2 linked regions of the Homo sapiens genome follow. The protein of the gene in region 1 interacts with the protein of each later gene in a pairwise test. Each region holds a gene or a part of one and is shown in the gene's direction. Other genes may lie near its edges.

Region 1 (3,732 bases):
AGTACGTGTTAAATATAAACTGCTATATTTAGAATTCTAATTCCTTTATTGGCAATGCTATGCTTTTAGACCATAATATATTTTAATATAAATTATCGGCGAGCTCTTCTTAACTTGCAACAGAAATTAAAAATAAAAAAGTAGTTATGACTATATCACTATGGCAGTCATCATATAGTATTTATTTTTTCTTTCTGCTTTTAAAAAATATCTAGTTAAAATGCAATCTTCTTTAATTCTGTTCTTTGTTTTTGTGTAATTTCTGCACCAACAATATTAAACTTTGGTTTGAGGTTACTCTGAAATTGCTTTTCTTCATAGAAGTTTTCTGGGCTTAAGTCATCTGAAAACTCAGGTAGTAGGATAGAATCAAACATAATAGTAATTGCTTGAAACACTTTAATAAGTAGTGACAAAACTCTAGTCTGCTCAGCAAGAAGAGTTGTTATTTTGGGTATCTGTTTTATGATTATTTAGTTATAATTACTTAATCAGTTATAATTGGATTATATATTAGAAGCAGAGGAACAGGCTTTCTAGAAAGTCAAAGAGCAGCCTTATTCTACTCTCAGAATTTAGTAAAATCTCAAATAATTTGACTTTTCAGAAATAATATGGGTCCTTTTGTTTTCTATGCTATTAATATATTGGAAAAGCCTTAAATATAATTCAGTATACTTATTGAGCACCTACCATGTTCCAAGTACTATAACACCTTTTAAATTGCTACCAAGATGAATAAGGCATAGTTTCTGGTCTCAGTGAGCTCCAAAGGTTAGTTAGGGATATATTTATCCTGTCTTCCAACATCAGCAGTATAAAAAGACATTGTGGCCTTTAGTGGCCACTCTCACTGCAGGCTTGGGGAAATCGAGAATTGAGAATGAGAGTGAGTATATGTTGATTTATAAAATGATGTGTGCTGCATACTTAGTAGTATGGCAAGTCTTTGATGAAGAAATAAGCTTAAAAAGATGAAAATATATGAATTTTAAGAAATTTACAGTTGACTTAGATTGTCATGGTTAACATAAATGGATCAATACCATATACAGGAGATTACATATTCAAATGTTGTAACTAAATACTGAAGATTTCCATGAAAGCTAAGTCTTTTGGAGAAATGGAGAGTTAAAAAGGAAGATTTTGAATTCTTCTTTTTCTTAATGTAAATAGGGTTTTAAGAGGTAGTCACAGGTAAAAGGAAATAGGTTTGGACTACAAGAGTAATCCATGTTGCATTTTTCTACACATTGAAAAAAAAGAAGAAAATAGTGGTGAAACTCTAGAGTTTTAGTGATAAAATTAACCATAACTGGTAGAGTAGGTGTGAGTGATACTTTTTCACTAAGAAATGTAGAAACAAAGCAATTGCTTTTTAAAATAGTTCTCAAATAATCTAATGCCTTTGAGTAGCAATATGCCTGTTCTTTTATGAAGATCTCACTGGTAAACTATTTTGCATTAAATGCTGGTATTAATATGGGATCACATATCTTATTGGTCAGAGTGACACTGGAATCTGTAATAATCAGCCTTTTATCTGGAAACAAAACTAATTGCAGCTTTAGCTGGATTCTCTTTTAGTTTAGACTTGTTATAACCTTGAGCTTTTCTTGTAGTGTTTATTTTTATGATTTCAAGTAACAAGGCTACTATATGAGTTGAAAAACATATGTAAATAATTTCTTGAGAGGCTTTCTGAATAGACATGACTCTAACAGAGAAACTAAAATAAAGTTGTTTTGTTGTTGCCTTAGAATCACTCAGTGACTGGATCTCCATTGGTGAGAAGTATGTCAGCATTGTTGCCATGGACTGGAAAGCACCCATAATTTGTCTTACAATGGCATAAACTGAAATAAATTTAAGTTGAATTTTGAACAATTTGAACCCCATAGGAAACAGTCTGATTTGAACTGATGAAAACAGAATTAACAATTATCTGAAAAATATTTTCACTTCTAAATGTTCCCTCTTTTAATGTCTTAACCACTTGATGTTCTATAGTTTATTGTCTGGAAATTCCTACCGAGTATTTTTTGGTTAATGAGCCCATGCATAAAAAATTCGTTACAAGAAAAAATTATAGAGAATAATCTCGGAACTATTTTCTTTTTGTTTGAGACAGTATCTTGCCCTGTCACTTAGGTTGTAGGGCAGTGTTAGAGATCTTGGCTCACTGCAGCCTCCATCTCTTAGGTTGAAGGAGTCTTACCACCTCAGCCTTCTGAGTAGCTGGGACTAGAGGCATGCGCCGCCATGCCTGGCTAATTTTTAATTTTTTTTTTTTTGATAGAGATGGTGTCTTGCCATATTCCCCAGGCTGATCTTGAACACCTGTCTTCAAGTCATCCTCCTGCTTAGGCCTCCCAAAGTGGTAGAATTATAGGTATGAGCCACCATGTCTGGCTTGAAGTATTTTCCAAGTTCTAAAGTTGTGTATAAATAGAATTTAGTAGTTCTTTTAATTGTAGCAATAGTCATACTTTTACTACTTTATACCACAGTCTACCTCCCCAAACTGTGGTATATTTACCAAATGCTAAAATGCTCTGAAATTTTTCTTTACTTAGGCATGATGGCCTAGCAGTTACCAAAAATAATTTTGAGAACATAGAGGTAGCCAATAATCATCCATCACTGTCTATTTCCAATGAATTAAAACATTCAACACTTAGAGAATTAGCTGATAAGAAATTCAAGCAGCCTTAAAGTAATAGATAGTGTGTTTCAGGCAACAGTGAAGTAATAGATAATAAAGCCAGTGTAATAGGTTTCATTATTACCTGGATTATGTTATTTTCATCCTTGCTTCTCTGAGGATCTCAGGTACTTAAATCTAAATGTAGGAAAAAAGATAGAAATGCAAGTTTGAGCAAAACATATTTTCCCAAACTATAGAACTTTTCTTCTGTAGAGATAGTTCTTGAAAAATTTCAGGGGCAATTTTAGAGATTTAGAGTAATAAAATTCCAGTAGGTCGCTGATTCAACTCTGATTGAAATATACATGACTGACATCAAGCTGCAAATACAAAGTTAACAAACAACAAAGGGCACTATTAAAAAAATCAAATTTATTTTTTCTGATGTTAGGAGCAGCACATGAATATTATAGAAAGTTTGCAAAAATCTAAAGAAATATAAAGGAGAAAACAAAAATTATCTTTAGTACCACATAAAAATAAGTATACTAAACATTTTGTCATATTTTCTTTTAGTCTTTTTGTATGCATATTTTAACATAGATGAAGTTATACAAAGTTATAAATTATAAGCAATGACATTTTCTACTTTCTTGAATGATATAGATCGTAACTATTACACAGATTTGCTATAAGTTACTTCATACTTCCCTTAATATTGGGTATTCTATTTATTTCCAGCTTTTCATGGTTATTAAACGTCACTAGAAAGAGCAGTTTTGGCAATATGAATATCTAACAGAGGTCTTACTCTCTGCCAGGTACTCTTCTCAGCGCATTTATTTATATTAAATTATCTAATTCTCAAAACAGGTAGATGAGGAAGTTACTGATATTGCCCATTTTACACATAAGAAATCTGAGGTCCGAGATAGTAAGTCATTTGCCCAACTCACTTGTCTTGTAAGTGGAGAAGTGAAGCTTCATTGCCAGGTAGCTTGGTGTCAAAGAACAGCATTAACCGCCAAGCTCTTTCACGTTTCCTATTTTTTTTTTAACATTTTCTTAGAAGTCAAGGATCTAAA
Region 2 (3,732 bases), on another chromosome or scaffold:
AGGGGTGCTTAGTCACCAAGACTGATTTGTCCTCATGAAGTCAGCCTGTGGGGTAACTTGGTCCATGGGATTTCCCCTAAAAAGGTAGCCAGGCAGGTAAAATTTGCTCTTGACTCTTGGCAGGAAACGTACAACTCTTTCTTTCTTCTTTTCTTTTCTTTTTCTCACTCTGTTACCCTGGCTAGAATGCAGTGGCACAATCATAGCTCACTGTAGCCTTGAATTCCTGCGCTCAAGTGATCTTCTGGCCTTAGAGTAGCTGGGACTACGGCTGCTGTACCACCATGAACAGCTAATTTTTTTTTTTTCTTTTAGAGATGGGGTGTTGCTATGTTGCCCAGGCTGGTCTCCAGCTCCTGGCTTTAAGCAATCCTCCCGCCTTGGCCTCCCAAACTGTTGGGATTGCAGGCATGAGCCACTTTGCCTGGCCAACAGAACACTTCTGCCGAGAGGAAGTGTGTGGTGGCCAGGAACTCAGATTCTGGAGCCAGAATGGTGCAGGCTCAAGGTCAACCCTGTGTGATCTCAGGCTTCCCTATGGAGCCTCTCCAGCCTCAGTCTCCCTTGTTTCAGTTTCCTCATCTACAAAACAATGTTAATAGTCAAATGGTGCCTATCCTATAAGGCTCTTGGGAGGATTCAGTGAGTTAATTTGAGTAATGCTTAGGATAGTGTCTATTACCACTGGCTGCTATTTATTATTTCTGTTATGAGTGATACTCTGTACTTGTACACTTTTATTTCTGTCTGTTTTAAATTAACAGCACAACAGACCATAACACTGCAGTATATTGAATTTATTTTATAATTAACATAGCATATTATAAACTAATATAGCTTAAATGTTTATGTAGGATTTCTGACATGAAATTGCATTAGATCATAGATGTTCAGAGTTGGTATATAACAGCCCCTGAGAATGTAGTAACTCAGCAGAGACCAGAAGGTCAGAGAAATGACCACTGAGTATTTTTGAAACTCTTTTGTTTTCTTCCAAATAGTGATTCTTAGGGCTCCTGAGAGGCAGATGGAACAATCATTAACATTCCACTTTATAAATCGGGAAGTTGAGACCAAGGAAAGTAGTTTGAATAAGCTCACAGTAGTTAATGAGGGGGCCAGTGCTGGACCAATTGGCCAGCACTGGTCATTGACTTATTCATCCATCATTCATTTATTCAGCCAGAATCTATTAGGTGCTTCATACATATTTGCTTAAAGTTTGTTGTGTTCATAGAGCTTTGCACACGGTAGGTACTCCATAAACATTTGTTGATGAAATAAGTGAGTTACTGAATGAATGATTGAATTAGAATGACACTGCAGTGTTAAAATGGGCTGGGTTGGGGAACATTTTAGTTTTTGTTTTTGTCTGTTTTCCAAAAATGTATGTGTTGTTCACATGAGTCTGGATAACCCTAGATTGAGATTGATGACATAAATAAATTTGTCTTCAAGGCTGCACTAAAGCTGGCTCACATGGCTAGGTATTTACAGAGCAGAAGTGGTGCAGTCCTCTCTGATTAGTTGCACGTACAGAAGACATATTCGTTATTGGACTGACCTTAGTTTCTCTTATAATTTGTTAGGGGAATTGAATCAGCCCATCTGAGAAGTTACAAGATTGTGTCTTGTCATCTTTAAAAGTTCAGCAATGTGATGTGGTACAGATGGTCTGAGGGGTTTGGAGAAGGTAGCCTAGATCCCTAGGGCCCAGAGAAGACAGGATGTGAACAGAGGAAGTACATGGATTGGTGAAGAAAAGAAATGGGATAACTCATGGGTCAAAGAAGAAATCATGATGGAAATCAGAAAATATTCAGAACCATACAATAATGAGAATATTATTTATCAAAATCTATTGGATGCAGCTAAAGCAGGACATAGGGGGAAATTTACAACCTTAGGTGCCTAGATTAGGAAAGAAGGAAGGCATTTGTTTATTTATTTGTTTATTTATTTATTTGAGATGGGGGTCTCACTGTGTCACCCAGGCTGCTGGAGTGCAGTAGCACGATCATAAATCACTGAAGTCTCGAACTTCTGGGCTGAAGTGATCCTCCCGCCTCAGCCTTCCAAGTAGGTGGGACACAGGCTAGCACCACCATACCAGGCTAATTTTTTTTTTGTAGACACAGGGTCTTGCTATGTTGAGGTCTCAAACTCCTGGGCTCAAGTAATCCTCCTCCCTCGGCTTCCCAAAGTGCTGGGATTACAGGCATGAGCCACTGCGCCCATCTAAGGCTGAATTTTAATGAGCTAAGAATTCATCTTAAGAAAGGGCTAAATAGACAGCAAAAGCAAACATTGAAGGTTGGGACTGAGCTGAGTGGGTAGCAGGGATGGGAGACAACAGATCTGAGGAGAGCAGGAGATTTTGAAAGGATTGCACTGCCTGAGGTTTAAGCCTTTAGAATCCAGCTCTCTCTGAGCTCCCTTTGAGCTCTGACATTCTGTGACTCTGATTTGGTGGCCTTCCCTTAGTGGCCTTACTGATTTCATTTGGATGGTGCTTGTGGTATATCCAACCAACATGTCTTCCCAAATGGCCTTTTAATTTCCTATAAAGAAGTAGTTGTCATTGATTGCAGGTTAGGGACAGAAAATGCTGTGGAATGAAACAAAATGCAAGTTAAAGAACTAAATTCCAAAAATACCCATTGCTACTATTGACTGAGTGAATTCCTACTGTGTGCCAGACACTGTACCCAGTCCATTCCCTGTATTGTTTTATTTAAGCCTCACAAGGGTATAGTGTGACTACACTGTTTCTTAACAATGAAGAAACTGCCCAAATCGCCCATCTGGGAAGCGGCCCAGCTAGAATTTGAATCCAGGCCTGTTTTCCTCCAGAGCTTGTGCTATTCTCTGTCTGTCATAAAATGTGGGGGCTTTGTGTGGTAAACTTGCTCAGTTGGGCATAGCAGTTGTTAGGAAACCTGAGGCTGGTAACACCAGCTGTAATACCAGCTGTCCGTCTGACTCATGCAACTGTTAAAGTTGATAGGGCTGAGGTGTCAGACTGAGCTCTGAATTGCCTGATTCCTATAACAATATTAACTTAAACATTTTTTAAATTGGGAAATGCACCATGCATACAGAAGAGTGTGTATATTTCATATGTATAGTGTAAACTGTTCCCATCACCCAGGTTAAAAAACAGGATGTTGCCAGTACCTGGGGCCTTCTTTAACTGCAACTGCTAGAGGTAAACACTGGCTTGACTTTTGTGTAAATCATCTCTTTGCCTTTCTTTAATGTTTTAGCATCTTTTAAAATAAATCCCCAAATAATGTATTGTTCTATTTTGAAAAACTGAGTAGCAAGCCAAAAATAGCTGTGTAAAGAAAGGTCACTTAAATTAGGCTGGGTGCAGTGGCTCAAGCCTTTAATCCCAGTACTTTGGGAGGCTGAGGCAGGTGGATCACAAGGTCAGGAGATCGAGACCATCCTGGCCAACATGGAGAAACCCCGTCTCTACTAAAAATACAAAAAATTAGCCAAGAATAGTGGCATGTGCCTGTAGTCCCAGCTACTCGGGAGGCTGAGGCAGGAGAATCGCTTGAACCCGGGAGGCAGATGTTGCAGTGAGCCGAGATCGCACTGCTTGAACCCGGGAGGCAGAGGTTGCAGTGAGCCAAGATCGCACCACTGCACTCTAGCCTGGGTCACAGAGCAAGACTCTGTCTCAAAAAAAAAAAAAAAAAAAAGAAAGGTTACTATTGCCTTTTC

What was found. Proteins that work in one complex are often made in the same cells at the same time.
Region 2: the proteins of PRR16 (region 1) and NOD2 interact in binary tests that used the Homo sapiens proteins (3 or more experiments, as listed by UniProt).

What each region holds. Positions count from the first base shown.
Region 1 is NC_000005.10:120,467,216-120,470,947, forward strand, and holds part of PRR16 (protein Largen), read left to right. Parts: intron 1-3,732. UniProt on the Homo sapiens protein: Regulator of cell size that promotes cell size increase independently of mTOR and Hippo signaling pathways. Acts by stimulating the translation of specific mRNAs, including those encoding proteins affecting mitochondrial functions.
Region 2 is NC_000016.10:50,699,994-50,703,725, forward strand, and holds part of NOD2 (nucleotide-binding oligomerization domain-containing protein 2), read left to right. Parts: exon of another isoform or gene 1-84; intron 85-3,732. UniProt on the Homo sapiens protein: Pattern recognition receptor (PRR) that detects bacterial peptidoglycan fragments and other danger signals and plays an important role in gastrointestinal immunity.